5 separate regions of the Homo sapiens genome follow, and all the other regions are linked to region 1. Evidence: fine-mapped expression QTL. A gene starts in region 1. Each other region holds a variant in brackets. All regions are shown on one strand. Distances are from middle to middle.

Region 1 (6,137 bases):
CGAACAAAACAAACAAACACAAAAAAGCATCCAAATGAGAGCTGATATTAAAATATTCTTGTTCATGGCTTCAGAAAGGAATAGACCTAATTTTTAACTGGGTTCATATATTCCTAAACAGTATCAATAAAATGTTATAAACAGTAGGGTTCCTGTTGGGGAAATAGTACAAACTTCTGCTTTATAGTAATATTTTATTTTTTGAGATGGAGTCTCGCTCTGTCACCCAGGCTGGAGTGCAGTGGCGCAATCTCGGCTCACTCCAACCTCTTCCTCCCGGGCTCAAGGGATTCTCATGCCTCAGCCTCTCAAGCAGCTGGGATTACAGGCACGTGCCACCACGCCAGGCTAATTTTTGTATTTTCAGTAGAGAAGGGGTTTCACCATGTTGCCCAGGTTAGTCTTGAACTCCCGGCCTTAAGTGATCCGCCCGCCTTGGCCTCCCAAAGTGCTGGGATTACAGACATGAGCCATCATGCCCAGCCCATAATATTTTGATTGAAATAATGTTTTTTACGTTTTAAAAGTGTCTTCTGTTGCCCAGGCTGGAGTGCGCTGGTGTGATCAAGACTCACTGCAGCTTTGACCTCCTGGGCTCAAGCGATCCTCACACCTTAGCTTTCCAAGTAGCTGGGACCACAGGCATTGGCCACCACACCTGGCTAATTAAAAAAAAATTTTTTTATAGATATAGGGCCCCGTTATGTTGCCCAGGCTTGTTGAACTCATGGGCTCAAGTGGTCCTCCTGCCTGGGCCTGCCAAAGTGCTGAGATTACAGGCATAAGCCACCGCACCTGGCCTTAAAATTTCTTCACATCTATTATCTCATTTGATTCTCTTTAACAGTCCAGCAAGACAGGGAGGATGCTGTTACAACTCAGAGGTCCTGTAGAAGCCCAGGACACAGGTTTTTCAAATCTTAGCTGTGTGCCTTTGCACTTCTCCGTACAGATAGCCTAATACACTTAAGATACCTAAGATAGTAACTTATCATAACAGTTCTTAAAAACATTCCCAAATTTTAGAACATCACAATTATATTTGTCCCAGGAGTAGAGTTAAATTGGCACTCAAAGACCACAATAATTCACACATAGTAAGTTAAGTGTTAGCTGTTATTATTAAAAACCCATATTAAGAGGTAGTACAGTGATTTATTTATTTATTTATTTATTTATTATTTTTTGAGACACAGTCTGGCTCTGTTGCCCTAGCTAGAGTGCCACACTTGGACAGGGCTCACTGCAGCCTTGAACTGCTGGGCTCAAGCGATCCTCCTGCCTCACAGCCTCCTTTGTAGCTGGGACTACAGGCACATGCCACCACGCCCAGCTAACTTTTTGTTTGTACAGACGGGTCTCCCTATGTTGTCCACGCTGGTCTCAAACTCCTGGACTCAAGCGATCCTCCCACCTCAGCCTCCCAAAGTGCTGGGATTACAGGCATAAGCCACTGGGCCCAGCCTAGTATAGTGTTGTGAATAAAAGAATGGACTCTGGAGCCAGATCCCCTGGGCTTGAATCCTTGCTTCACCACCCACCTATCTCAATATGTTGTGTGTAAAGCTTTTAGAGGAGTACCTAGCAGGAGGTATTGAATTTGATAGCTCTAGTACTTAGACACATAAGTCATAATTTTCCCTAAGTTACGTGGTAAATGATGGAGTTGGATTGTAATCTTGATCCTTACATCTTATTACCTCTTATAGAAATATTGCCTCTCTAGGTTATGTTATTTTTCCATAATTCCTAGAATGTGTTTTCCTTCCTTTTCCTTCTCCTTTCATGGCCCACATTTTACTCTCCTTTATCAAACTGAAAATTTCACAATCAACATTTAAAAAATTTCTAGTGCAAAAATTTTAACCCAAAAGTCCTCAGCTGTTAGGTACGCCGTTCATGCCATGCATGCACATTTGCATGTGCAAGGAGTTGTTTTGTGCTGTAAGTTGTTTTTCCTTTCTGGACATATTCTATAAGCCCACAAGCGGTGAGCTACTTGAACCCTGAATTTCTATTCACTTCTTGTTAATTTACTCAATTGTATCTAGCACTGGATACTGCTACAGCCACTGGGCTATTTAGTAAATTACCATCTGACTGAAATACAGTCCTTGTATTTTATTCTATTTTTCTTTTCTTGATTATTAGCTGACTTGTTTGGTGACAGGCTGTCAAGAACACGCAAATTTCATGGCCATATAAAAATGATCTCGTCAACGTCTTCCCTCGAATTGAAGCGGAGGATTTAGTTGTAGATTTGGTTTGGCACCTTCCACTTTAAGGAAGATGTAAAAACTAAGGCGCAGGTACTCCAGCTGCAGGGAGTGTTTTTTGTCCCCGCTCCCCTGTCCCCCATAAAGAAACAGGACCTCAGGTGGTGGGCGGGCGGGGAAGGAGAAGGGATGTTTCTAAGTCTACAGGGGAGAGTGTAGAAAGAAAGAAGGAAAAGGTAAGAGGACTCCACAGTTTCTAGGTTTTGTTCTTCTTTTTTTCCCTCTGGACAGCGGTGGCAGCTGATCAGACACAATAGCTGGCAGTCCCCGGCCGCAGTGAGGATAAAAATGACCCTCAACAGCACCAGCAGGAGCACCGAGAAGGGGAGGGGAGTGTGTATGGGAGGGGGCGAGGATGAGGGTGACAAGGTGACAAACGCTGCCTCTGACTGCGAGCAACTCCCCCTCCAGCCCCGCGAGGCTCGGAGCCGGGGAGCCACCTCCCCGGAGCGGGGCGGGGTGGGAAGGAGAGGCCGAGGGGGCGGTGGCCTTCACCCGGGGGCGGGGAAGAGGGCGGAGGGAAGCCTGATTTACCAGCCCCTGATTGGTTCGCGTTCTCTCGTCGCGTCTCCCGATTGGGTAATTTGCAGCGGGAGATGTTGTGAGGCACGGCGGGGCGGAGCGAGCTGCCGGGGTCTGTGACAAGGCCCGGGAATTGGGTGGGGAGGGTGGCGGTTGTGCCGCGGCTCCGGAGCCGCTGTGACCTGGAGTGTGGCGGACAGAGAAGCGCAGCCGCCTCTCCACAGTTCCGCTAGCCGCGCCAAATTCGCTCAGCCGCTCTGCAGAATTTATAAAAGGGAAAGAACTGAATGAGCAACGCTTGGCTAACTTCCCCCTTCCCACCACAGGAAGAGATTTTTGCTGTGAGGCGTGAGGGGACACTCCCTTATCTGGAAGTCCCACGTCTCGTCGCAGCTTCATTGCCTTCCCGCTGCAAAAAAGGGGTGGGGGCACAATTTGCCAAGCCCTGTCCCCCAATCTAGGACCTTTGATCCCTGGAGTCTGCAGATGTCGCTGTTATAGGCTTGTCCCCCTCTCCACCCCAGACGTCTACCACCAGGTCTCCTTTCCCGGGAGCAAGCCCATCCCTGGACGCTGCCGTTCAGCGCTTGGGAGACTGCAGGGGCGGGGAGCGTTGTGTGCCTGGTTTTGGGGTGCTGGGGGGCGAGGGCTTGTAGGTCCCGCGACCCACGGGGAGGGGGCAGGCGAGCACCCCGCTCCGGCCTCCGGCTAATCCCCCTTCTCCAGCGTCGGTTCCCCGGTCCCGTGTTATTCAAGACAGAAAATATTCAGCCCCAGAGCCTCCCCTGGGGAGGGGAGGGGAAGGAGGTGGAGTGGGAGGAGGTGGATCCAGGGAGGAAGAAGCGAGAAATCCGCCCCCGGGAAACAGCTCCGCGCGGCCACGGAGCGAGGCGCTTCTGTCACTTGGCGTTCGCGGGCGCCGGAGCTGGGCCCCGGCCCGGCCCGGCGAGGCGAGGGGAGAGTCCGGCGGCCGCCGCCCCGCCCCACGCCCTCCTGCGGCGGCCGAGAGCCCGGGGCCGGCCGGGGCAGGTCGCGGCGGTGCCTGGGAGCGGCCGGCCGGGGGCGGCGGCCTCGGAGCGCGGCGGCGGCGGCGGCGGCGGCGGCGGGCAGCGCGGGATCGTCCGGCTGCGGGGTCCGGCTCACGCCGGGCGGGCGGGCGGGGCGCGCTGTCCCGGAGCCGGCCAGCCCCGTGCGGATCCACTCGTCCCGCTTCCTCTGGTGCGTGTCTGGTTTCTTTTCCGTCTCAGCCGAGAGGGCGCTGCGCTCGCGGGCCGTGGAGTGCCCGGCTTGCCGCGGGCTCTCTCCCTTCCCGCCACAGGCCACCCGGCCGGGCGCTGGCTCGGGGCCGGAGGGAGCCCGCGGCGGGCGCCCGGCGGGGGCGGAGGGGCCGCGCCCGCGTGTGCGGAGCAAGGGCGGGCGGCGGGGCGGAGGGAAGGGCACAAAGGCCGGCGGTGGGCGCTGGGGTCCGGCCGGCCAGCCTTGGAGGAGGGGCGCCTGGGGCCGCTCATGAATATTAACCGAGCCTGCGGCCTAGCGCGTCCCGGCCGGGCCCGGCGCCCGGCCAGCGTCTCCGCTTCAGCTCGCCGCCGCGCTTCGGCCGCCGGGCCCGAGCGGGCGGGAAGGGTAAGGCCCCCGGTTTTGTCTCGCCCCGGGGCTCCTAGCACCTTTGAGAAAGTCCATATTGGGGCCGCTCTCCTCGGGAGCTCGAGGTCCCCGACCCGCCTCAGGAAGGGGCGGGGGAATCGTGGGGAGGTGGGTGGTGGTTTGCTTTTTCTCGTTTTTTCCCCCTAGGTGGCCACAGGGGAAGGGAAGCCGTGTCGAGTGGTAGTTGGGGGAAAAGCCGCGACTTCAGAGTTGCTCGGGTGTAGCTCCAGAATCATGCCCTGGAGCGGGAGCGGCGCCGGCGTCCCACCCGCGGCCGCGCACGCCTCCCCGGCCGTCCCCACCCAGCCCCGCCGCGGGCCAAGGAAAACAGCCGCCTCCTCGGGGACGCCGGCCGGGGCGGAGGGGCGGAGGGGCGGCGCCCGAGTCACCCGGAGACGCCGCCGAGCCCACGCCGGCCCCAGCCAGGCTGGCTTTGTGCTTGCGTTTTTGGGGGGCGGAGGGGAGCGAAGAGGGGGCTTGGAAAGTGTGATCCCATTTCAGCCTCGTGGGGGAGAAAACTTCACCGAAGTGTCCCTGTCTGGGTGATGCAGAAAACAACATGCACAGCCCTCTGCTCTACCCAGGAAAGACATGAATTAAAATGCACTTGAATGGGGAACATTTTTTCTTGAAGGCTGCATAACAGCCAGGTGTGTTTGACGCAACCGCTGGGCAGTTTCGAGATTTCTCTTTTTTAAACACCCCCTCGAATTTATAGGCTTTTTGTTTGTTTACGTTAAAATTTTTTTTTGTTTGTTTTGCTCGGGAGGAAACGCGAACTTGGTGTGGACATGTGGGCAAGACAGTGATAGGCGCCTGGAGAAAGTTCATGACCTTTAACTTCTCGTTTTCCTAGGATCTCTCTAGGAGCTGACACTCGAACCTTCACGACCCATTCGGATTTTTCCAGGACTCAGGAGTGGCACTGGGAAGAAGGGGACCGCTTTCTGCAATTGGCCTCGACACTGGCTGCCAAGAAGACCTGTCGCCTTTGTTTTTAAGTCTCCAGAAATGGAAGAAGAAGGCGAAGTCAGTTGAAGTCACGAGAAATCAGCGAGGCATTTGAAGGCGCTTCCTGAAAACCTTTATTCCCTGGCACGTTGTCTGTTTCAACAGCCCTGCCCCTCCTCGGAGCCTGCTTGTGGAATTCTTCCCCTTCGGGTGTGTGGTGGCATTCCCCGCCACGTCCAATGTGGACTCCAAAGGATTTGTCCCTTCTTTGTCATTTGAAATGAAATGATGGCCACGCGTCGGACTGGTCTGTCTGAGGGAGATGGTGACAAGCTCAAGGCCTGCGAGGTAAGCGCGGAGCCAGCGTTCCTGGCCGGCAGGGCGGTGGCCTGTGTCTTGAGCGTCCTGCAAGTTGGGGGTTACCGGCCACGGGGCCTCACTAGGGGCTTCCCGGGGCTTTGAGCCTGTTGGCGGGAGCGCCCCAGCTTAACCAGTAGCGAGGAGAAGCCTGGCCCACGTCTGTTTCCAGGGACTCCCGTGTTTCTTTTGCAAGAACATGTCCCGCAGTTTGGAATGTCCTCATCTTGGTCACCCCTTCTCAGAGCCAGGAATTCTCCCGTCTCTGTGGCTGTGGATGCTACAAGCCTGAGAATGGGCACCTCAGTATCCGTTTTCCTTCAGTCCCCTTCCGAGATATTTGGAGTTGAGCTGGTTGGGGGTGGCTTTCAGCATTTGTGTCTGCTC
Region 2 (6,137 bases), 450 kb after region 1:
GCAATGGCAATATTTTCTTACTACCAACTCTCAGAAAACATACATTATTCTCCATAATTATCCAATAAATTTGGACCCATCTGAAAATAAGCATCAGTCACTTTTCAGTTTATACATGTATGCTATTAGTCATTACTCTGGTAATATGTGAAATGTAAATCATTGCCTTATTACTTACTGGATATGGGCTGTTTTTTGGTTGAGGTATGCGTCTAATTTATTGGTACTACATTAGAAAATGCCCTACACCAAATATCTGCTCTGATTGGACTAAGATCCTACATTTTTATATTTGGGAATATTGCTCAACTTGAGAAAGGCAAGATGTCCCAATCCCTGCAACAGTAACTTGGACTTTTTTTTTTTTTTTGAGACAGAGTCTTGTTCTGTCGCCCAGGCTAGAACACAGTGGCACGATCTCGGCTCACTGCAACCTCCATCTCGTGTGCTCAGGCGATTCTCCAGCCTCAAGCCTCCCGAGTAGCTGTGATTACAGGCATGTGCCACCACACCCGGCTGATATTTGCATTTTTAGTAGAGACAGGGTTTCACTATGTTGGCCAGGCTGGTCTCGAACTCCTGACCTCAGGTGATCCACCCACCTTGGCCTCCCAAAGTGCTTGGATTACAGGCATGAGCCATGGCGTCCAGCCAATAACTTGGACTTCTAATTAAAGATGTGACGTGGGCCAGTTATGCATAGAGGTAAGCCAAGGGCCTCTTATGTGACACCCTCACTGGACTGGGACAGATTCTGCCATGTCATTTACCTTGAGTACTCCAAAAGGAAGAACATAAAAATAATAATGTAATGAAAGTAGCAAGGGTATGTTTAACTTCAAAGAAGATCATTAATACTTAGCCTGGACTGTCTGAGAATATGACTAGAGAAAAGGGAATGAAGGAAAGAGGAGTACTTAATCTATGCTTATTGTTCAAATGCTCTTCTCTGCTCACACTTTGCAAATGTTAATAAGAGTCTGATCTCTTGATAGTAACCATAGGGAAATTTATCAGCCTCTAAACATAATTTCTCCCTTTTCTCTATCCTGAGTCTCCAATGAGTTGGGCAAAATGCAGAGGCATCTCATTCATTCAGAAAATGCCATCTTTTCTCTCTCTCATATATGTAGTGTTGCTAAAATTAACTAAAAAATTAACTAGTTTTAATTTTCTTCTTCTTAAAGGCTTCTGTCCATAACTGTCCAAGGCGCAGAAGGGCACAGACTTTTACGCAATGAGAGTCCCCTGACATTCTGCTGTCTAAGACTTCATTCTCAGAGTGCAAGGACCAGAGAAAGAACTGGGGTGGATGCTATTCCACGTTTGCTCTTTTCATTAAGACTTTTCAAAGAAGACTTTATTCCAACATGCATTTAAAAGAAAAAGAAATGAAGAATTCTTCCTTCAGGCGAATAACTCATAAGGGGAAAAAAACCCTTGAATATGATTTATTTCACAGGGATCATTGAAGAGCACGTGAAAACCGATCTCTGTTGAAATTCCGAAATACTTGTTAATGCCACCTTGAAAGAAGTAAAGAATTTCGAAGTCAGTTATTAAATAAATCCATGACTATTTGAACAGCTATCTCAATTTGGCTGGAATGTGGCTAGAATTCGAGTTATGTACATTGAGTTTGAGTAGAATGTGGCTTTGACAATGAGTCAACCTTAGTATTTTCTTCCCAACAATGATGGAGCGGCTTGGTGAATGCAGAGCTCCCTAGAGTAGCTTTTAGAACTCGTACTCTCCTTTCAACAACAGATTGCTCAGTTGAGAAGTTTTAGAACTGAATGAAAACTCAGGCATCATTTAGTTATTTGTGCAACTTGAATATTTTTTCCAATAAGATAACCAAGGCCAAAAAAATTAAGTGGAAAAAATGTCACACATCGAGTTAGAAAGTAGAACTAATCTAGATTCAAGCACTCCTAGCTACTAGTCCAGAGTTCTTATTACTAACCTGGACCTGCAGTGAGCACCACTGACATCCCTAACTGAGTAGTGACTTCCCTAGTAATCTCCCTTATCTAATTTTACTGCATAAACACATTGCTATCTGTTACAGGAATGGGATCTTAATCATGTAGAGAGAAGGGAAAACAAGGCATGAGGAACCTTTGAACCTTATTGCTAGGCTTCAAGTAGAGAGATGTCAGGTTGTCTCCCGAGTCCACCCTTCCCACCCAATTTCCTACTCTCACGAGCATCCCATGGGCTTTGGTCTCTCTGTGCCTCTTGTAACCAACCTAAAATGGAGATGCATAAAAGTGGCCTTTTATGCCACTTTTAAGTGGGCTATCTTATCTTGTATAAGGCTAGGTCATACTTTTGAATAAAACAATTTTTATTTGAAGAGGCTGGGACCAAGAAATATATATAGCTAGAATGGGCTGCGTACAGGGGGAAAGTTTATTAAAAGGCCTGCGTGTGCACAGTTTCATTATTCTCACTCTTTTTTTTTTTTAAGACAGGGTCTCACTCTGTCACCCAGGCTGAAGTGCAGTGGCACAATCTCGACACACTGCAGCCTCAACCTCCCCAGGCTCAGGTGATCCTTCCACCTCAGCCTCTCCAGTACCTGGGACTACAAGTACATGCCACCACGCCTGGCTAATTATTATAATTTTTTGCAGAGATGGGGTTTTGCCACGTTGCCCACGCTGGTCTTGAACTCCTGGGTTCATGTGATCTACCCACCTCGGCCTCCCAAAGTGCTAGAATTACAGGTGTGAGCCACCGCACCATCCTATTCCTACTCTTCTTTCCTTTAGTAAAGAGTAAGTATAAACTAACAAATTGGTTATAGTCAGAACTGAAATTAGCACTTATGATGTGGAATCTCAATCAAGATTCAGATAGCATGTTGGTTATATTGTGAGGTTTTTTCAATATATATGACCATGAAATTTCACTCCTAGGGAGGTGATTACTAAGTTCAATGTTACTGAGTTTCTTACTCAAAAACTGTGTTGATATTTTTCCTTTCAGAATGACATATTTTATGTCAATCAAAATAGAAAATAAGTCCCAAATTGAATGGCACTTAGAAAAATAACTTTGATGCCAAATTGGAAAAGAAAGCTTCAAAAGTACTTTGAAAATGGAGCCAAACTACCAATTAAAGGAAAAATTATAGACAAATTAAGAATATGCTTTTTCCAATGACACTGAACCTCAATCATTTTCTCCATAATGACTTGAAAACCCTGTAATTCTCATAGAAATCTGGCAGTCTCACCCATTTCCCCTCAGCAGAATAAATAGTGAAGTATATGGTGTGCTTTGTAGATCAAAAAAATATTGCTGTATGATATAGG[T/C]GGGGGGACACATTCCACAGTTACTCCCAAATATCATCAAAAGAAAGAAATCTGGCTGGGTGCAGTGGCTCATGCCTATGATCCCATCACCTTGGGAGGCCAAGGCAGGTGGATTACTTGAGGTCAGGAGTTCGAGACCAGCCTGGGTAACATGGTGAAACCCCATAACTACTAAAAAAAATAAAACAAAAATTAGCTGGGTGTGGAGGCAGGCGCCCGTAATCTCAGTTACTTAGGCGGCTGAGGCAGGAGAATCTCTTGAACCTGGGAGGCAGAGGTTGCAGTGAGCTGAAATCGCACCACTGCACTCCAGCCTGGGCAACAGGGTGAAAAAAAGAAAGAAAGAAATCTAAGCTACTCTTCACAATGCAATAGCTTAATCGATTGCTGTTATTTTTCATGCTGGCTAATTTTCAAAAAGATGAAAATAAGAAAGATGGATGCATTCATGTGATTTAGTGACAGTGGAGTTTGTGCAAATAAATTGCTTTGATGATGATGGAGGGATGGGTTGTAAATATTTTATCTAACAGCCCAAGAGAATGGCATTATGGAAACCCAGTAAGTGGGGGAAGATGAGCCACCTATGACCAAGCTCATATGAGTGTCCCACAGCTGGATGAGACAGTGTTCAGTGACCAAACTGACTCTTGACATGAACCACAATCTTCAGTTTGAATCTAGAATAATTGTGCAGAACGTGAAAGGTATACTAAGAAAGATGATAAAAATCAATTATTCTGTTTTGAAAAAATCAAAGAATATATTAAGGATTTTCCATTTCTAACACCTTCCTTCTACAGTTAGGGAAACAGACCAGACTTGGGTGGACTGAGAACCAGAACTCGGCAATCTGTGTTCTAACGCTTACTGCCCACTCCTGTGGCAGGGGGCGATTCTTCCATACCTGTGTTGATTTGGGTGGTGTGGGCCTGCTGCAGATGATGGTAGTGGGAAGAGACTAGAGGCCTTCTCATAGTCTTTTCCAATCACAGCATTGGAAATTTAGCATTGTATATAGTACGGGGCCCCAATCTTTAGAAGTGTTGCCACTAGATGTCAATTTGAGTTCTTGACACTCTGCTACTCCTAAAAATGCCCCTTGATAAATATCTGCAGTGTTTGAACATTTCCTAGAACTTCTTGAGTTAACCAAACCTGTTAGATGATGAAGGGTTGCAAGAACAAAAACCAATGACTCACTGTCCCAGAACAACATTTCTTGAGGAGAAAAACCAACCCCACTCATTTTGCCTTCAGTGTGGTAAGCCCAGAGGGAATGGGTGCTTGGATTCAAGTATTAGCCTTCATGTTTCTGCCAAAGTGTAATTTGCTCTGTTTTTTGATGAATGTTTAAAGCAATCTTTTTGTTTTTTAAGTCAGGGAATCACTCTGTTGCCCAAGCTGGAGTACAGTGGCACGGTCATGGCTCACAGCAGCCTCAAACTCCAGGGCTCAAGCCATCCTTCCACCTCAGCCTCCCGAGTAGCTAGGACTACAAATGTGTGCCAACAGGCCGCCTCATATGTTTTACTTTTTTGTAGAGAAAGGATCTTGCTCTGTTGCCCAGGGTGGTCTCAAACTCCTGGCCTCCAGTGATCTTCTCACCTCGGTCTCCCAAACTGTTGAGATTACAAGTGTGAACCACTGCGCCAGGCCACAATCCTTTTTTTTTTTTTTTTTTTTTTTAATTATACTTTAACTTTTAGGGTACATGTGCACATTGTGCAGGTTAGTTACATATGTATACATGTGCCATGCTGGTGCGCTGCACCCACTAACTCGTCATCTAGCATTAGGTATATCTCCCAATGCTATCCTTCCCCCCTCCCCCCACCCCACCACAGTCCCCAGAGTGTGATATTCCCCTTCCTGTGTCCATGTGATCTCATTGTTCAATTCCCACCTATGAGTGAGAATATGCGGTGTTTGGTTTTTTGTCCTTGCGATAGTTTACTGAGAATGATGATTTCCAATTTCATCCATGTCCCTACAAAGGACATGAACTCATCATTTTTTATGGCTGCATAGTATTCCATGGTGTATATATGCCACATTTTCTTAATCCAGTCTATCATTGTTGGACATTTGGGTTGGTTCCAAGTCTTTGCTATTGTGAATAATGCCGCAATAAACATACGTGTGCATGTGTCTTTATAGCAGCATGATTTATAGTCCTTTGGGTATATACCCAGTAATGGGATGGCTGGGTCAAATGGTATTTCTAGTTCTAGATCCCTGAGGAATCTCCACGCTGACTTCCACAATGGTTGAACTAGTTTACAGTCCCACCAACAGTGTAAAAGTGTTCCTATTTCTCCACATCCTCTCCAGCACCTGTTGTTTCCTGACTTTTTAATGATTGCCATTCTAACTGGTGTGAGATGATACCTCATAGTGGTTTTGATTTGCATTTCTCTGATGGCCAGTGATGATGAGCATTTTTTCATGTGTTTTTTGGCTGCATAAATGTCTTCTTTTGAGAAGTGTCTGTTCATGTCCTTTGCCCACTTTTTGATGGGGTTGTTTGTTTTTTAAAATGGACATATATTGGCAGGAGATTAGCAAGTCAATTAACAGGCAGGGAGAAAATATAGTGAAGTTTTACACCATTCACCCACCTAATTTAAAAAGAATTTCAAATATAACAGGTTGTTGACATATTGTGCATGAAAACTACTAGTTCGCCTAGTTTTCATGAAAAGTCAATATAGGCGACCTGACCTTTCTAGCCAAATGAACTAGAGAGTAATGACTTGCTCTGATTCCTTTGCCATTCACAGACAGCTTTGTGTGTGTTTTTTAAAATAGTGC
Region 3 (6,137 bases), 96 kb after region 1:
TAATATAACATGTGTCCTTGTGGGCTGGGTGCAGTGGCTCATGCCTGTAATCCCAGCATTTTAGGAGGCTGAGGTGGGCCGATCACTTGAGCCTAGGAGTTTGATACCAGCCTGGGCAACATGGTGAAACCCTGTCTCTACAAAAAATTAGCTGGGCGTGCTGGTGTGTGTCTGTTGTCCCAGATACTTGGGAGGCTGAGGTGGGAGGATCACCTGAGTCCAGGAGGTCAGTCAAGTGAGGTTAATCAAGTGAACCTTGATAGAGCCACTGCACTCTAGCCTGAGTGTCAGAGTGAGACCCTGTCTCAAAACAAAAACAACAAACAAACAGATGTGTCCTTGCACAGGAGTTTATCTAAACATCAGTTTCTACCAACTCTAAATATTGAAATGAAAGTACCTACATATTTTACTAGTTAAATTTATTTGAACCTGTGGTTCTCATGGGTTTAGTATAATCTGAGCATTTATGAAACTAAACATAATGATTCAAATCTGTCAAGAAGAGACACCAGTAGATTATTTTGTTTTTTGTTGTTGATTGTTTCTTAATCTCTTGACTGTATTGGGGGAAAATATGTCTGATATTGTTAGATTAGCTGTTGAAGCATTTGGTGGAGATAGTAGCACTGCCTTTGCCATAACTTTTATTTTATTTTATTTTATTATTTCTTTTTTGAGAGGGAGTTTCACTCTTGTTGCCCAGGCTGGAATGCAATGGCATGATCTCAGCTCACTGCAATGTCCGCCTCCCAGGTTCAAGCAATTCTCCTGCCTCAGCCTCCTGAGAAGCTGGGATTACAGGCACCTGCCACCACGTCCAGCTAATTTTTGTATTTTTAGTGGAGACGAGTTTTCAACATGTTGGCCAGGCTGGTCTCGAACTCCTGACCTCAAGTGATCCACCCACCTTGGCCTGGGAACGTAAGCCACTTCGCCCGGCACCTTTGCCATATCTGTATGTACCTCCAGATCACAGGATTCAGTTTTGTTTACCCCTTTGAACTTTCTAAACTTAGGGAAATTTCTCTATCATTTTCAACAGGAAATTTACAGAACCAAAATAAAATTAGACTTTGAGCTGTCCCTGTAAAGGCACTAAAAGTAAATCATAGGGAAAAAAGCAAATAGTTGAAATGTTATATAGTTATTAAAAATGAGTCAGCTCAGTAGTTGTGACAGTAAAGCGATTTCCTTCACTTCTGAGGCCAGGAGGGAATATTGCAAAATTAAGATGTTTAATATTACTTGGCTGGGCACAGTGGCTCACGCCTGTAATCCCAGCACTTTGGGAGGCTGAAGTGGGCAGGTCCCTTGAGGTCAGGAATTCCAGATCAGCATGGCCAATGTGGTGAGCCCTCCTCTCTACTAAAAATAGAAAAATTAGCTGGGTATGGTGGCACATGCCCTGTAGTCCCAGCTACTTGGGAAGCTGAGGCATGAGAATGGCTTAGACCCAGGAGGCAGAGGTTGCAGTGAGCCAAGATTGCGCCACTGCACTCCAGCCGGGGTGACAGTGTGAGACTCAGTCTAAAAAAAAAATTACTTAAAATATTAAGTTTGAGGGTTCTTTGATGTTAATGAATTTTAACTTGAACAGAATATATGACAACAATCTATAATTTGTTTTGTGACTTGAATAAAACAATAAATAATTGTATACTGATATTGTTAAGAGTTTGTCCTGGGACTATTTAATATAAGCAACATACTTTATATTTCTAAATTAGAAACATGTTATAAAGAAAACTTTACTGATTATGAATAGCACAAACATGGCAGGGGTCCGTCCCTCTTTTGTATATAGTTAACTTACGTATACAAAGGTGACTTCTTTTCATTCTAATGATTTGATTTTAAAAATTAAGATATAAGAAAACCAGAATAAACTCTTAAACAATTTAAAAAATACTTCTGAGTTAACTGTTTTTCCATTAAGTCTTTTTTTATACACTTCTACCTCTCCTAAAATAGTATATAATTCAATTTCAGTGATACAACATTGGAACTTAGTGTTATGCCAAAAGATGAAGACATTCTCCAAGTGGTAAGTTTTATTTATTCATATATGAGTTGTTTTACAGTCATGAATGTTCGGAAAATATTTTTGAGATGGAAGTATTAAAGATGGAATTTAAAAAAAATTCTAGAATTTAAAAACCCTCTGGTTCCTTTTACAGAATCTGGAATTCTCTACATTTTACAAAAATACCATTGCCAAGTTTTTGCAATTAAGTGACATGGAAATGTTATGTTGATTCTACAGTGAACTCTTAATGCTCTCATTTAGAATGAGATTCCTAAAGAGTTTGTCCTAGTGTTGCCTTCTAGTTCATCCTTGGACCAAAGGAAGAGTTTAGAGTGCAAGTGCATATCCCCAGGAATTAGAATCTTTTTTTTTTTCCTTCTCACTATGTACAGAGAAAAAAAAAAAATAGAATCTTATTTTTGTAATACGAGGACAAACTTTATGATTGCCATTTTCTAATTTTCCAATAAATATTACGTTTGTAAATTCACCAAGCAGTATTGTTAGTAGTATCAATTCGTTCCTAAAATGTTCACAATGAACGGAGTCTACAACTTAAGGGGAAAATATGTTATGGTCTTGAAATGAAACTTGAAAACTTTAGTATTTAGTCTAAAATATTTTTCTGATTTTTATAAAGAAAGAAATTGAATAGAATACTTAACTCCTTTACTAAGCTTAAATACTGCTGATGATAAAAATATAAATTTCATCTGGGCACGGTGGCTCACGCCTGTAATCCCAGCACTTTGGGAGGCCGAGGCGGGCGGATCATGAGGTCAGGAGTTCGAGACTAGCCTGGCCAATGTGGTGAAACCCTATCTCTACCCTATCTCTACTAAATACAAAAATTAGCTGGGCATTGTGGTGGGCACCTGTAATCCCAGCTACTTGGGAGGCTGAGACAGGAGAATCGCTTGAAACCGGAAGGCAGAGGTTGCAGTGAGCCAAGATCGCGCCACTGCACTCCAGCCTGGGTGAAACAGCAAAACTTCATCTCAAAAAAAAAAAAAAAAAAAAAAAAAAAAAAATATATATATATATATATATATATATATATAGTGTGTGTGTGTATATATATGTATGTATATATATGTGTATATATGTGTATATATGTATGTATATATATGTGTATATATGTATGTATATATGTGTATATATATGTATGTGTATATATGTACATATATGTGTGTATAT[G/ATG]TATATATATGTATATATGTGTATATATGTGTGTATATATATATGCACACACACACACACACATATTTCATTCAAGAAAATAACATTTTCCTTCAATTGATTTTGCAGTTCTGTAGAATAAAATAGAAAAACTCTTTAAGTAACATACTTACAACTAACAGATCTAGGAAATGGCAGTGGCCGCTGAAGTATTTATTTTTAATTCTTTTTGGTAAACAATTGGGTTTTTTTCTTATTACCTATAGCTAAATTCAAGAAAAGCAGGGAGCTGATGGACTCTTTGTCGTGGTAATGGAAATGGTATAGTAATGTTCTTCATTTGTAAGGCAGTAGTTTGAACTTAGCTCATCAAAGGCCATAAATAATCTGTAAACATGTTTTATAAAAAAAAAAATCACTAAAGCCGATCCTAAAGAGTCATTCACTGACATGTAAACTATAATTAAGTGAAACTCATGGGGATTAACCCCATGTTTTCAAGGCATGTAGATTTTACTTAGGAATGGCTTAGTACCGATAACAATTACCCTTCTGAAGTACACAGTTCAGTTGGAGTTGGGAGGCTCAGGAAGGAAGATACAGTTTGCTGCAGTAATTTTCCTAGACATGCAAAAGTGGTTGTAGAGTTCCTACCCTGACAATTCAGCATAGTGATCATGTAGCAGACATAACCACAGACACCAATGGCTATGAAAATAACTAGACTAGAAATAAATAGGGAATTCTTCTCTAGTGCTCTTCTTATACAGAAGATGGTGTATATGGTAGCGAAGGATTTACCTGGCTTCCTCCTTGCAATCTGAAGGCTTGAAGACAGAATCAGCTTATGAAACTGAACTGTTTTCCGATCTTCAGTAGACCCTTTCCTTGCCAAGGTGAAGGTACTGGTTGGATGGCTCTTGGAACAGTGCTCATTTCACAGAATGGCTGGCATGGAAGCAATTAAATGCAGAATCGCCATGATATCCTGCAGTGTGATTGATGAAGAGCAGCAAACCACTTCATGTAATGGAAGGAGTAATTTTGTAATGATATGATTAATGGAAAAAGAGGTCACTTAAAGAAAAATTAGTTTTGTTCTGTTACTCATTCATATTCTAGAATAGTCTGTCTTGTTAAATTTTATTTAAGTAAATCTAAAGTAAAAGTAAAATATAAAGTATCCCAGAGACAGAGAAAAACCAGTTCAGTAAATAACATGAGCATGCAGATCTTCAAGGCTCAGCAGTAAAGAGTTCTGGTATACTGTAACATAAAATTTATTTTTAAAACATGGTATTTGAATTACTTTAATCATTAAGAAATAAAAGTACATGCCTTTAATCATAAAAGAAAACTCTACTTTTTAACCTTAATTCACATTTGAATGTAGTGTAATTCATTAAGAAATCAAAGGAATATATAATTTTCTGTCTCTAACATATATTCCAGAGTTAAAATGTTCTTTAATGTACTTCAGAAGTACTTATGCAGATCTTAAATCTGTTATTCAAAATATATGCTTTTAAAGATGTATTTGTTCCCATGAGGTTGAATATTTATTGTAAAGAAAAGCAATGGGTAATGTGAACATTTTTACAGCCACTGTAAAAATCATTTACCCATGGAAACACTTGTAGGTTGTATATGTTTGCCTGGGCAACAGGATTGGGTAGTGCATGGAGGTTTTTTTTCTTTTCCTGAAGTGATATACAGACCAAATTATTTTAGAAGTGCTCTGCTCACCTTTGAGAGGTGGCCTAGAAAATTTAATTTGGCTTAAAATTTGACTCGTGTAAGGACAGGTATATGATTATAGGTTTCATAATTCATGGATGACAATGATAGAATGTTTAAAACCATGAAGTAAAATTAAGAATAATTCATTTATGTTTTTAAACTAGTGCTAGTAATAGGAGTCCTGTGCTTGGCAGCCTCATTTTTTAAACCAGCATATATTTTCTAGGTTAACAATATAAATAGTATTACATTCATTTTAATCATTTTAACAGTATTTTGTTGTAATATTTTAGACTCTGGTATCTTAGACAGGTTCGTGTTTATTGCAAAATAAAAAGGTTTTTTATTGTATTTCCAAAAACCAAAATGATTTTGTTTCCCCATTAAATGTTATCTATGCATGAGTGAAATAGCCACACCAGTCTGGTCACCTAAACAATGATGCTGACTCTCTTAGTCTATTTGGGCTGCTGTAACAAAATACCTTAGACTGGATGGCCTATAAACAAAGAAATTTATTTCTCATATTCTGGAGGCTGGGAAGCCCAAGGTCAAGGCTCAGGTAGATTTGGTGTCTCGTGAGGGCCCATTTTCTCATAGATAGTACCTTTTCACTGTGTCTTCACTTGGTGGAAGAGCTGACGCAGCTCTCTGTGGCTTCTTTTATAAGGACACTAATTTCATACATGAGGTCTACCCTCATGACCTAATCATCTCCCAGAGGCCCCATCTCCTAACTCATTCACACTGGTGATTAAGTGTCAACATACGAATTAGGGGAGGGGAACACACAAACATTCAGACCGTAGCACTGACCAAAGAGAATACTTCCCTGAGTGAGATAGTGGTAGGAGAACTAGATCGGGGCATACTTCTTGGTTCATCACCCAGGATACTTTGTTAAGCATTTGGCTCCATTGACTCAAAGATTAAATTTTAAGTTAATCGGTTTTTATAACTCTGGAGATTCTTGGGTATAACTAATATTTGGCCAGGACATTTTAAACCTACTTTATGCTGTTCTATGTTAAACACAGCAAAGTTAAACAGCATGTCTGGTATAATAAGGAAGAAAGCAAATGGTATAAGGATTTGAACTCGGGCGGGTCTGAGATGAAAGCCTGTACTCTAAACCACAGTCCTATACTGCTGTTGAGTGGAGATGAACTGTTTAGGTGGCTTACCATAAGTC
Region 4 (6,137 bases), 200 kb before region 1:
AAGTTCTAGGGTACATGTGCACAATGTGCAGGTTTGTTACATAGGTATACATGTGCCATGTTGGTTTGCTGCACCCATTGACTCGACATTTACATTAGTTATTTCTCCTAATGCTATCCCTCCGCCAGCCCCCGACACCCCCTCCACAGGCCTCAATGTGTGATGTTCCCCGCCCTGTGTCCATGTGTTCTCATTGTTCAACTCCCACCTATGAGTGAGAACATGCAGTGTTTGGTTTTCTGTCCTTGTGATAGTTTGCTAAAAATGATGGTTTCCAGCCTCATCCATGTCCCTGCAAAGGACATGAACTCATCCTTTTTTATGGCTGCATAGTATTCCATAGTGTATATGTGCCACATTTTCTTAATCCAGTCTATCATTGATGGACATTTGAGTTGGTTCCAAGTCTTTGCTATTGTGAAGAGTGCCACAATAAACATATGTGTGCATGTGTCTTTATAGTAGCATGATTTATAATCCTTTGGGTATATACCCAGTAATGGGATCCCTGGGTCAAAGGTATTTCTAGTTCTAGATCCTTGAGGAATCACCACACTGTCTTCCACAATAGTTGAACTAATTTACACTCCCACCAACAATGTAAAAGTGTTCCTATTTCTCCATATCCTCTCCAGCATCTGTTGTTTCCTGACTTTTTAATGATAGCCATTCTAACTGGAGTGAGATGTTATCTCATTGTGGTTTTGATTTGCATTTCTCTGATGACCAGTGATGATGAGCATTTTTTTTTCATGTGTCTGTTGGCTGCATAAATGTCTTCTTTTGAGAAGTGTCTGTTCATGTCTTTTGCCCACTTTTTGATGGGGTTGTTTTTTCTTGTAAATTTGTTTAAGTTCTTTGTAGATTCTGGATATTAGCCCTTTGTCAGATGGGTAGATTGCAAAATTTTTCTCCCATTCTGTAGGTTGTCTGTTCACTCTGATGATAGTTTCTTTTGCTGTGCAGAAGCTCTTTAGTTTAATTAGATCCCATTTGTCTATTTTGGCTTTTGTTGCTGTTAGTCTGATGGGCTTCCCTTTGTGGGTAACCCAACCTTTCTCTCTGGCTGCCCTTAACATTTTTTCCTTCATTTCAACCTTGATGAATCTGACAATTATGTGTCTTGGGGTTGCTCTTCTCGAGGAGTATCTTTGTGGTGTTCTCTGTATTTCCTGAATTTGAATGTTGGCCTGCCTTGCTAGGTTGGGGAAGTTCTCCTGGGTAATATCCTGAAGAGTGTTTTCTAACTTGGTTTCATTCTCCCCATCACTTTCAGGTACACCAATCAAACATAGATTTGGTCTTTTCACATAGTCCTATATTTCTTGGAGACTGTGTTCGTTTCTTTTCACTCTTTTTTCTCTAATCTTGTCTTCTCACTTTATTTCATTAATTTGATCTTCAATCACTGATATCGTTTCTTCTACTTGATCGAATCAGCTATTGAAGCTTGTGCATGCGTCACGAAGTTCTCGTACTGTGGTTTTCAGCTCCATCAGGTCATTTAAGTTCTTCTCTACACTGTTTATTCTAGTTAGCCATTTATCTAACCTTTTTTCAAGGTTTTTAGCTTCCTTGCGATGAGTTAGAACATGTTCCTTTAGCTCAGAGAAGTTTGTTATTACCGACCTTCTGAAACCTACTTCTGTCAACTCCTCAAACTCATTCTCTGTCCAGTTTTGTTCCATTGCTGGTGAGGAGCTGCGATCCTTTGGAGGAGAAGAAGAACTCTGGTTTTTGGAATTTTCAGCTTTTCTGCTCTGGTTTCTCCCCGTCTTTGTGGTTTTATCTACCTTTGGTCTTTGATGTTGGTGACCTACAGATGGGGTTTTGGTGTGGATGTCCTTTTTGTTGATGTTGTTGCTATTCCTTTCTGTTTGCTAGTTTTCCTTCTAACAGGCCCCTCAGCTGCGGGTCTGTTTAGTTTGCTGGAGGTCCACTCCAGACCCCGTTTACCTGGGTATCACCAGCGGAGGCTGCAGAACAGCAAATATTGCTGCCTGATCCTTCCTCTGGAAGCTTCATTCCAGAAGGGCACCCACCTGTATGAGGTGTCTGTCGGCCCCTTTTGGGAGTGTCTCCCAGTCAGGCTAAATGGGGGTCAGGGACCCAATTGAGGAGGCAGTCTGTCCGTTCTCAGAGCTCGAATGCTGTGCTGGGAGAACCACTGCTCTCTTCAGAGCTATCAGACGGGGATGTTTAAGTCTGCAGAAGTTGACTGCTGCCTTTTGTTCAGCTATACCCTGCCCACAGAGGTGGAGTCTAGAGAGGCGGTAGGCCTTGCTGAGCTGTGGTGGGCTCTGCCCAGTTTGAGCTTCCCAGCCACTTTGTTTACATACTGAAGCCTCAGCAATGGTGGACGACCCTCCCACTGCCCAGCTACAGCATCACAGGTTGATTTCCGACTGCTGTGCTAGCAGTGAGCAAGGCTCCATGGGCATGGGACTGCTGAGCCAGGCACAGACAGGATGGAATCTCTTTGTCTGCCAGTTGCTAAGACTGTGGGAAAAGTGCAGTATTTGGACAGAAGTGTACGGTTCCTCCAGGTACAGTCTGTCACAGCTTCCCTTGGCTAGGAAAGGGAAATCACCCAACTCCTTGTGCTTCCAGGTGAGGCAATGCCCCACCCCACTTCGGCTTGCCCCCTATGGGCCGCACCCACTGTCCAACCCGTCCCAATAAGATGAACCAGCTACCTCAGTTGGAAATGCAGAAATCACCCATCTTCTGCATCAATCATGCTGGGAGCTGCAGACTGGAGCTGTTCCTATTCAGCCATCTTGGAAGCGACCCAGGAAAGAGGTTTAATGGACTCACAGTTCCATATGGCTGGGGAGGCCTCACAATCATGGCAGAAGGCAAATTAGGGGCAAAATCATATCTTACATGGTGGCAGGCAAGAGGGCATATGCAGGGGAACTCTCCTTTATAAAACCATCAGATCTCATGAGAC[T/C]TATTCACTATCATGAGAACAGCATGGGAAAACCCCACCCCTGTGATTCAATTACTTCCCACAGGGTCCCTCCCATGACACATGGAGATTATTACAATTCAAGGTGAGACTTGTGTAAGCGCACAGAGCCAAACCATATCAATGCGGTAATCAGTTTAACTGATATATACCTGATCTTTTCCAAAAAGGATCTAATGATGTATTTTATTAATTATGCCCAGATAATTTCTCATTTTCTGCAGGAAAATAATTGCAGGCAGCAAAATATTAACAATTATCCTTATTTTATGTTAGGTTATTTTTATCAACATTTTGTAACTGATATAGAATGTAAAATTTAGCATCAAGACCAGGAAAATCTTTTTGAGATTACATATTCCATTTGTATTTTATAAAACACATGAACTTTAAAGTCTAGGAAAGTTACCAGGAAATAATTTGGATTTGGTGGGAAAAAGCAACACAGTTGGATATATAATAAAATGGTTTGGGGAAAATATTTATGGAAAAATAATGCCTTTGACAATTGTTTATGATGCTCATTGTACTATAATAAAGTTTGAGTTTAATGGTTTTATTGTCGTTTTAACCCATAGTGTATATTCCTTTCTTGCATGAGTTTGCCATTATTAAACACAGCATTATTGTTAATCACTCAGGTAATTCAACATGCTTACAATCTGTAGCTTTCAAGGACAAGAATTATTTAATTTTCTACTTATTAATTTGGGATTCATTTGGAGGAGGACAGTTTTGACATTTTTTTGTTTGCCTAGCTTTTTTTTTTTTTTTTTCCTAGAGAACAGAAATGAACTCAAACAGACATTGACAAATAGGAGAATAATGTCATTAAAAACAGGATGACTCTTGGTGAGGAAAAGGGCACAACAGTACGTCAAGGGCCCCCACAGCCCACGCCACAGAGAGGAATGACTAGGCAGGAGTGGAAAGGAAAAGGCCAGCAGTTGGTGATGAGTCAGCAGTACTTTTGCTAAAAATGCTAATCTAATACAGCAGTGGGAAGTGTTGGTTAGCATGTGATCATCGAGGCCTGGAATGACTCCTTCCTCTCTGCAGCTCTCAGGAGTCCCTGTTGAAGGACCGGGATGGGGGCTTTGGTGCCCTATAGACCTCTGTGTGTTGTTTTGGGGTGTGGATCCTCCTCTAATTAGGAAAGATAGCTAGAAGGCAGGCTCAGAAGTCTGCCCCAACTCACACTTCCAAAATTCACATTGGCGTGTGTAAGAGATCTGAGAAATGAAAATGTGTGATATTCTCCCTCATCTTCATATTAAGATAATTTCTTAGGACAAAAATGATTTTTAAACATACCCCTTACTCCAGCGATATCTGAGCCCTGATCACTCAGGAAGTGATAATGACACCTTTGTTTTTTGTTTTTTTGTTTTTTTTTTAATCACTTGTAACCGCTGTGTTGTAGGCAGGGAAATACTTAACCATGAAAGTGACATATTCTTGTTTTATTCCTATACTTAAAGCAAAAGCTACTTACTTTCAGTGTAGGTCAATTTAGATCTGCAAAACAGAATACCATTTTAGATGCTTTGAGGCAGTGTTCCTGTAACAGAATTGTTAGTAATTTTAGAAGATTAGTGAAATATTTTATTTTGAAAACCATTATGGAATTCCATGTTTGTTTCTTTTAATGGATAAATTTAAATATATATCAAATGGATAGATTATTGTAGACTTTTTCAGGGATAGTTATTTTTCCATCAGCAGTACTGTTAGACTACTCTATGCAGAATACATCTACTAGAATGACTTATTTCCTTTTTTGAAAAAAAAATTGAATTTTATTTTAAGTTCCAGGATACATGTGCAGGACGTGCAGGTTTGTTACATAGGTAAATGTGTGCCATGGTGATTTGCTGCATCTATCAACCCATCACCTAGGTATTAAGCCCCACATGTGTTAGCTATTTATCCTGATGCTGTCGCCGCATCTTCCATCCCCAACAGGACCTAGTGTGTGTTGTTCCCCTCCTTGTGTCCATGTGTTCTCATTGTTCAGCTCCCACTTGTAAATGAGAACATGTGGTGCTTGGTTTTCTGTTCCTGCATTAGTTTGCTGACTATAATGGCTTCAAGCTCCACCTATGTTCCTGCAAAGGACATGATCTCCTTCCTTTTGATGGCTGCATAGTATTCCATGGTATATATATATATACACACACATATATATATACACACACACTCATATATATATACACATATATATATAACATTTTATTTATCCAGTCTATCATTGATGGGCATTTGGGTTGATTCCATGTCTTTGCTATTGTGAATAGTGCTTCAGTGAACATAAGTGTGCATGTATCTTTATAATAGAATGATTTATTATATTCCTTTGAGTATATACCCAGCCATGGGATTACTGGGTCAAATGGTATTTCTGATTCTAAGTCTCTGAGGGATTGCCGCACTGTCTTCCATAATGGTTGAACTAATTTACATTCCCACCAACAGGGTAAAAGCTTTCCTATTTCTCCATAGCCTCACCAGCATCTATCGTTTCTTGACTTTTTGATAATCACCATTCTGACTGGCATGAGATGGTATCTCATTGTGGTCTTGATTTGCATTTCTCTAATGATTTGTGATGTTGAGTTTTTTTTCATGTTTGTTGGCCACTTAAATGTCTTCTTTTGAGAAGTGTCTGTTCATGTCCTTTGCCCATTTTTAATGGTTTTTTTTTAATGTAAATTTGTTTAAGTCCCTTGTAGATTCTGGATATTAGCCCTTTGTCAGATGCATAGATTGCAAAAATTTTCTCCCATCTATAAGTTGTCTGTTCACTCTGACAATAGTTTCTTTTGCTGTGTGGAAGCTCTTCAGTTTAATTAGATCCCATTTGTCAATTTGTGCTTTTGTTGCAATTGCTTTTGATGTTTTTGTCATGAAATCTTGGCCCATGCCTATGTCCTGACTGGTATTGCCTAGATTTTCTCCTAGAGTTTTTATAGTTTTGGGTTTTCCATTTAAGTCTTTAATCCATCTGGAGTTAATTTTTGTATAAGATATAAGGAAGGGGTGCAGTTTCAATTTTCTGCACATGGCTAACCAGTTCTCCCAGCACCATTTATTAAACAGGGAGTCCTTTCCCTATTGCTTGTTTTTGTCTGGTTTGTCAAAGATCAGATGGTTGTAGATGTGTGGT
Region 5 (6,137 bases), 140 kb after region 1:
TACTCTTTCCAGGAAAAAATCAGCTAGATTCAAGTCAGATAGTGGAAGTCTAGGAGATGCCAAGAATGAGAAAGAAGCACCTTCGTTAACTAAAGTGTTTGATGTTATGAAAAAAGGAAAGTCAACTGGGAGTTTACTGACACCCACCAGAGGCGAATCCGAAAAACAGGAACCCACATGGAAAACGAAAATAGCAGATCGGTTAAAACTGAGACCCAGAGCCCCTGCGGATGACATGTTTGGAGTAGGGAATCACAAAGTGAATGCCGAGACTGCTAAAAGGAAAAGCATCCGGCGCAGACATACACTAGGAGGGCACAGAGATGCTACCGAAATCAGCGTTTTGAATTTTTGGAAAGTGCATGAGCAGAGCGGGGAGAGAGAATCTGAACTTTCAGCTGTAAACCGGTTAAAACCAAAATGCTCAGCCCAGGACCTTTCCATCTCAGACTGGCTGGCCAGGGAACGCCTACGCACCAGTACCTCTGACCTTAGCAGAGGAGAAATCGGAGATCCCCAGACAGAGAACCCAAGCACACGAGAAATAGCCACGACCGACACACCTTTGTCTCTTCATTGCAACACAGGCAGTTCTTCCAGCACCTTGGCTTCAACAAACAGGCCCCTTCTTTCCATACCACCACAGTCACCTGACCAAATAAACGGAGAAAGCTTCCAGAACGTGAGCAAAAATGCTAGTTCTGCAGCGAATGCCCAACCTCATAAACTGTCTGAAACCCCAGGCAGTAAAGCAGAGTTTCATCCCTGTCTTTAAACTGGGGGTATGTCCACTCTAGCAAGTAAAAAAACTACTGTTACACGTTCCAGTAACTCTGTCAATATTTTCTTGTATCAGAATTGTTATTATGCAGCCTTCATTTGGGCTGGTTTCATCATTTTGCACTGTGAAATAGCTTTACAGTGCATTACTACAGCCAGAAGAACATATATATATATATATATATTTAAAAATATATCGGATAGTTGTATACAAATGAGCAAGGTATTTGTTGCAACTTACTACATAGCATATACCCAAAATCACTGAAGAAAATCGCTGGCATCAGTGTGCAGCAAATTTGTTCTTTTGGTTTCATCACTAACAAAAGTGCCTCATCATAAAAATACAGTTGGTTTTTAGGGTGCCATATTGTTAAAATTAGATAACTTACTTACATTGAATAAACGAATGCGTTTTATTGGTAACAGATATCATTACATTTACCAGTTTTAACACAGGTGGATACAGAACTTCCATTCTTTAGTCATTCCAGGTGGATCTGAGTTTTATATTCAAACTTTTAATACAGTTTTTGAGTTTTGTGTGACTTGAATTTTTAATCTTTCTGTAAAATACGTAACTTAAATGAACATATTAAATGTGTATCTTTTCTTCAGATACCAGATTTGATATAATGTTGTAACATAGGTGTGTAGATAGTGGATCCTGGATGGAACTGGCTTCTTTATCGAGAAGAATATAATTCTGCATGAGGACTTAATGAATCCAAACCTGTGTCATGCCTGTGTGCATACCCAATTAAACACTGGAAATAAAAATTGTTTTGGTGAATTTTGCATGGCTTGAAACTTATTCTGATATATTTTTAGATGTCATCCATTTATAACTACCTTACATGATTAATTGGTCCTGACTTTAAAAAGGTGCCTACTATATTTATACATTCCATCTTCTCCTCTTTCTTGCTGTGGTGGGTAGAGACTCTTTCTTACAGATGCTTACATTAGCCTAACCTCACTTGTTGACTGATAGTGTTTAACTCTTCTAGGTAAAGTAATGTATGTTATGTTAATGTTCTTTTCGTGAGTGAAACGAACATGAGTTTGGAGTCAGTCCAGCTCTACCTAGGTATGTGAACTTGAACACATTATTTAACTTCTCTGAATTTGTTTTCTCATATAAACAGTTAGTTACAGTAACACTACCTATTATAAGGGTGATTAGATTTAAATGAGATACTGTTCCACTTACAGTGCCTGCCACACACTAGTTTCAAAATAGAACAAAGCTATTGTTGGAAGTAATGGTTACAAAAAAATCTCAGACTGTTAAGGCTGAGAAGGACCTTAACAGTCATCAAATCCAGAGATTGTCAACTGTCAAACATGATACTTTCTTAAAAGTATTTTGAGATTTCCCCTTTACCATCATGAAATTCATAATATATCTAAATATAACTTTACATTGAGTATGTTATGATATAGACCATAATCCCCTATTATAAAAGAAAAATGAAAGTGATTTATAATAAAATAAATTTTTCAATATGCAAATGCTCAGGTACAACTACATCATGAAAATAATATAATGGAATAGTCAGATGTTTGCTCCAGTATATAGAGTCACTAACAATGGTAACTACACATGGAGATGGTACCATGAATAGTTTGCTGCTGGCGATGAGATTTTACTAGGAGTCATGCTCTGCTTTTAAAGTTTTGAACAAAACAAAGCACACACTTCCCTTAGTTTACATGAGGGGGAGTTCTTGCAGTGTATTATTAAAAGTGTCAAAAACACTTTTTACTTATATGTTTTAAAAGTTACTTTCAAGGCTCAAATAGTTTTATATTATTTGTTCTTGCTCCTCATTTTTTCTATATTTTTTTTTCTTTTGAGAGAGAGTCTCACTATCAGTCTATTGCCCAGGCTGGAGTACAGTGGTACGATCATCACAGTTCACTGCAGAGCTGCGACTGACAGGCACATGCCACCATGCCCAGCTAACTTTTTTTTTTTTGTATTTTTTGTAGAGATGGGCTTTCTCCATGTTGCCCAGGCTCATCTCAAACTCCGAGGCTCAA[AG/G]CGATCCGCCCGCCTTGGCCTCCCAAAGTACTGGGATTACCGGCATGAGTCACCACGCCCAACCTTTCTTTGGCTATAATTTGCTCGACTTTTTAATTTCTTGAGACGATTGCTTGGAAAATTGATTTTTAGTTGTTTTCTAATATCTTCATTTTAAGGCTATATGCTGTATTTTTATTATCATTCATTTCAAAATGCTTTCTAGTTTGCATTCTGATTTTTTTCTTTAACCTGTGAGTTATTTAGCAATGTATTGCTTAATTTCCAAACATTTGAAAACTTTCTGGTTATGTTGACTCCAGCATAATGTTACATTATCATTAAACATACATTTGAAATTGAGACATCCATTTTGACCCCACTATATGGTCAATTTTGAGAAATAACACGTCTACTTGAAAAGAATATGTTTCTATCCTTACTGGATGCTTTTTATTTGGTGTATTAGGTCAAATTTAATCATGTTTTACAGATCTAGATCATTATAGATTTCTTCCCTGGCTCTTACCAGTTCCTGAGAAGTGATAGAATATTATGATATGAATGTAGATTTGCATATCTTTTATGTCAATCTTTTATTTTGAAGTTAGTTTACTAAGTGAACATAAATTTAGAATTGTTACGTCTTTGTGGTAGATTGACCCTTCTATTATGAAATGTCCTTCATAATGAGTCTCAACCAAAGCTTTATTACCTTATTTTATATATTAATGTAGCTATATTAGTTACTTTTGGTTAGTATTTGCATAATACATCATTTCCATCCGTATTAATCCTTTTGTATTTTTCTCATAACAGCATATAGATTTTCTTTAAACATAGTCTCTTAGTTGGAATATGTAACCCAGTTACATTTAATATGATTATTTATGTGTTTGGATTCACATCTACAGCTGAACCATTCATTTTCTCCATGACCAGGGCATTTTACCTACCCTTTTCTCTTGTTTCTTGCCTCTTTTGGATTAATATTTTTATTATACCATTTCCTCCTATTAGCATATTTATATGTTCTTTTCATGGACATCCTTGACTTAACTGAATATAATTTAAATTGGATTCTACTTTGTGTATTTTTTTGTAGAGACCAGGTTTCATCATGTTGCCCAGGCTGGTCTCAAATGCCTGGGCTCAAGCGATTTGCCTGTCTTGGTCTCCCAAAGTGCTGCGATTACAGGTGTGAGCCACTGCACCGACCTGGCACATTGCAGCTTTACTAGGTTTTGTCAAATTAATCTCCAGAGTTCGCCGGCAGTGTACGAGGATTCTCATCTCTTCACTTCCTCAAGGACAGTAGGGTACTGTCAGTGTTTAAAAATTTTGTTTTTAAAACAAAGTTGATGGGTGTGAGATCTCTCACTGGTTTACATTTCCTGCATTACTAGGGCAGAGACCACGTTTCAGATGTTCATTGGCTATTCTGGTTTCCAACTAAGTTTTTTTTTTTTTTTTTTTTTTTTTTTTTTTTTTTTTGGTGACGACACAGTCTCGCTCTGTCACCAGGCTGGAGTGAAGTGGCGTGATCTCAGCTCACTGCAACCTCCACCTCCCAGATTCAAGCAATTCTCCTGCCTCAGTCTTCCGCGTAACTGAGATTACAGCCACGCGCCATCACACCTGGCTAATTTTTTGTATTTTTAGTAGAGACGGGGTTTCACCATGTTGGACAGGCTGGTCTTGAACTCCTGAGCTCAGGGAGTCCTCCCGCCTCAGCCTCCCAACGTGCTGGGATTACAGGCATGAGCCATTGCGTCCAGCTATGTGAACCTTTGATCATATTTCTGTTGTTTTTTTCCTCACAGATCTTTACAAGATTTGGATACTAATCTTAATTTCAAATCCCCTCTTTCAGTCTATAGTTTTTAAACTTTGTTTCAGGTGTTTCTTTGCATAGTTTTAAATTTTATTTATCCCCATTTGTTGGCTTTTATATGTGTATTTTGAGAACCGCTAAAAAATACTTCCCTATCCACAGACATATGGTATATATTTGTTTTCTAGTAGGCTTAAAGTTCGTTTTCATGTGCTGGAGTTCATTTTGTGACTGATATTAGGTAGAATGGCAGGATTATCTTTTCCTCTGGTCGTTTTTGATGAGCTTTTTGCTACAAAATGTCAGATCCCTGGATTCGTATGCAAGACAATCAAATGTCCCTACTTGCCATTTCACTGTAGCAAGGTTAAACCATACGACACCAGCAGGGCTGCTTTAGCTGACTGATTTGTGCAACAGAGAACAGTAGGAGCCAATTGTAACAGGCATCTCAGCTGGCTGCCCAGGAAGGAAGGAAGGAGGGGAGTTGTACTAGGGGAAGAGCATCTGTTACACAGACCTCCCAGCATCCCTGCTATGAAAGCTAAATACCACGAGAGCTGGAACAGCATCTTAGGACAGTAGAAGGAAATACAAAGCAGAAGGAAGCTTAGTTTTGTCCAGCCAAGGAGAAGGTTTAGACAGTATAATATATGCTCAAACCTTCCAATGAAGCAGTTACAAAAGGAAAATATTGGGAATTGGACATAAAGATTTATCGATTGTCAAATTTGTTGACCATGGGGTCCTGAAGATGCTTTCTTACAGACACAAAACAAAACATGTCTTGAAACCTTTACTTTCTGAGAGTAGAATGAAGATGGCAGTTGTAAAAATCTACCAACAGAACAAAGCAAAAAACTAGGTGCTCATGTATGACATTGTCTGAATTTCACCTAGTCAGCATTAGATTTTAAGGTATGGTTAAACTTCCCCAGAAGGTGGAATCACTGTACCTCACTTTTTGTTACTTTTTTGTTTTTTTGAGACAGGGTCTCACTCTGTCACCCAAGCTAGAGCACAGTGGTACCATCTCTGCCCACTCAGGCTTTCTCATCTGACCACACAACACAGAAAGTGATTTGAGTAGCTATTCTCAAAATTCTTCCAAGGATGGATGGTACCTATCCAGTACGTTAGATCCGTAGAAAAAAAGTCAATTCATTACACATAACAATGTCTTAGGATCATCACATACATGTTTAAGCAAAAACATTTCATGGCACATTCTTCACTAAGGCAATAAGGAAGGCAGTAGATGTAATACAGTAGTTAGCTGGGATTCTGAGAGTTGGCAGGCTAACTTACTTCAGATCCTAGCTCTGGCACTTAGAGACAGTAGTGTCTATCAAGGATGTAATGAGTATGTCAGGGCTAATAAAGTGCCTGATACATAACTACTGCCTTATATGTCAATTATCCACAAGACTGTAAGCCCCACAAGGGTAGAGGTCTTTGGTTTACTGGTGTATTCCATGCCTAGAACAATTGGCAGGA

Direction of the effects. Alleles are on the strand shown, and positions count from the first base shown. SD is a standard deviation of normalised expression in the study named. Not every link is listed here.
For the expression in follicular helper T cells of the gene that starts at base 3,691 in region 1, ATG is the high allele of the variant in region 3 and G is the other (large effect, 1.0 SD a copy in Schmiedel 2018).
In carriers of allele C in region 4, the expression in monocytes after LPS of the gene that starts at base 3,691 in region 1 tends to be lower than with T alone (large effect, 1.2 SD a copy in Quach 2016).

What was found. PIP is the estimated chance that this variant, and not a neighbour inherited with it, causes the effect.
Region 2: its variant is fine-mapped to the expression of ARHGAP21 in regulatory T cells (Bossini-Castillo 2019, PIP 0.95).
Region 3: its variant is fine-mapped to the expression of ARHGAP21 in follicular helper T cells (Schmiedel 2018, PIP 0.94).
Region 4: its variant is fine-mapped to the expression of ARHGAP21 in monocytes after LPS (Quach 2016, PIP 0.95). The same link has a PIP of 0.9 or more in monocytes, monocytes after Pam3CSK4 and monocytes after R848.
Region 5: its variant is fine-mapped to the expression of ARHGAP21 in whole blood (TOPMed, PIP above 0.99).

The regions. Positions count from the first base shown.
Region 1 is chr10:24,721,441-24,727,577 of GRCh38, reverse strand. ARHGAP21 (Rho GTPase activating protein 21) reads left to right here and starts at 3,691. Exons shown (of 26, transcript NM_020824.4): 1 at 3,691-4,016; 2 at 5,299-5,741. The coding sequence starts at 5,679. RefSeq lists silencers at 2,572-2,951, 3,702-3,891, 3,922-3,991, 4,082-4,161, 4,182-4,541 and 1 more and an enhancer at 3,248-4,158.
Region 2 is chr10:24,268,086-24,274,222 of GRCh38, reverse strand. The region is part of intron 2 of KIAA1217; the gene reads right to left. Among named protein-coding and RNA genes, the nearest start is that of MIR603, 4.5 kb to the left of the region's middle. The variant T/C (reference allele first, on the strand shown) is at 3,324.
Region 3 is chr10:24,625,906-24,632,042 of GRCh38, reverse strand. ARHGAP21 (Rho GTPase activating protein 21) reads left to right here. Exons shown (of 26, transcript NM_020824.4): 7 at 1,993-2,047. Among named protein-coding and RNA genes, the nearest start is that of ARHGAP21, 95 kb to the left of the region's middle. The variant G/ATG (reference allele first, on the strand shown) is at 3,227.
Region 4 is chr10:24,919,325-24,925,461 of GRCh38, reverse strand. The region is part of intron 3 of PRTFDC1 (phosphoribosyl transferase domain containing 1); the gene reads left to right. Among named protein-coding and RNA genes, the nearest start is that of PRTFDC1, 30 kb to the left of the region's middle. RefSeq lists a cis regulatory region at 3,925-3,935 and an enhancer at 3,858-4,002. The variant T/C (reference allele first, on the strand shown) is at 2,954.
Region 5 is chr10:24,579,050-24,585,186 of GRCh38, reverse strand. ARHGAP21 (Rho GTPase activating protein 21) reads left to right here. Exons shown (of 26, transcript NM_020824.4): 26 at 1-1,573. The coding sequence ends at 775. Among named protein-coding and RNA genes, the nearest start is that of ARHGAP21, 140 kb to the left of the region's middle. RefSeq lists an enhancer at 4,837-5,338. The variant AG/G (reference allele first, on the strand shown) is at 2,827.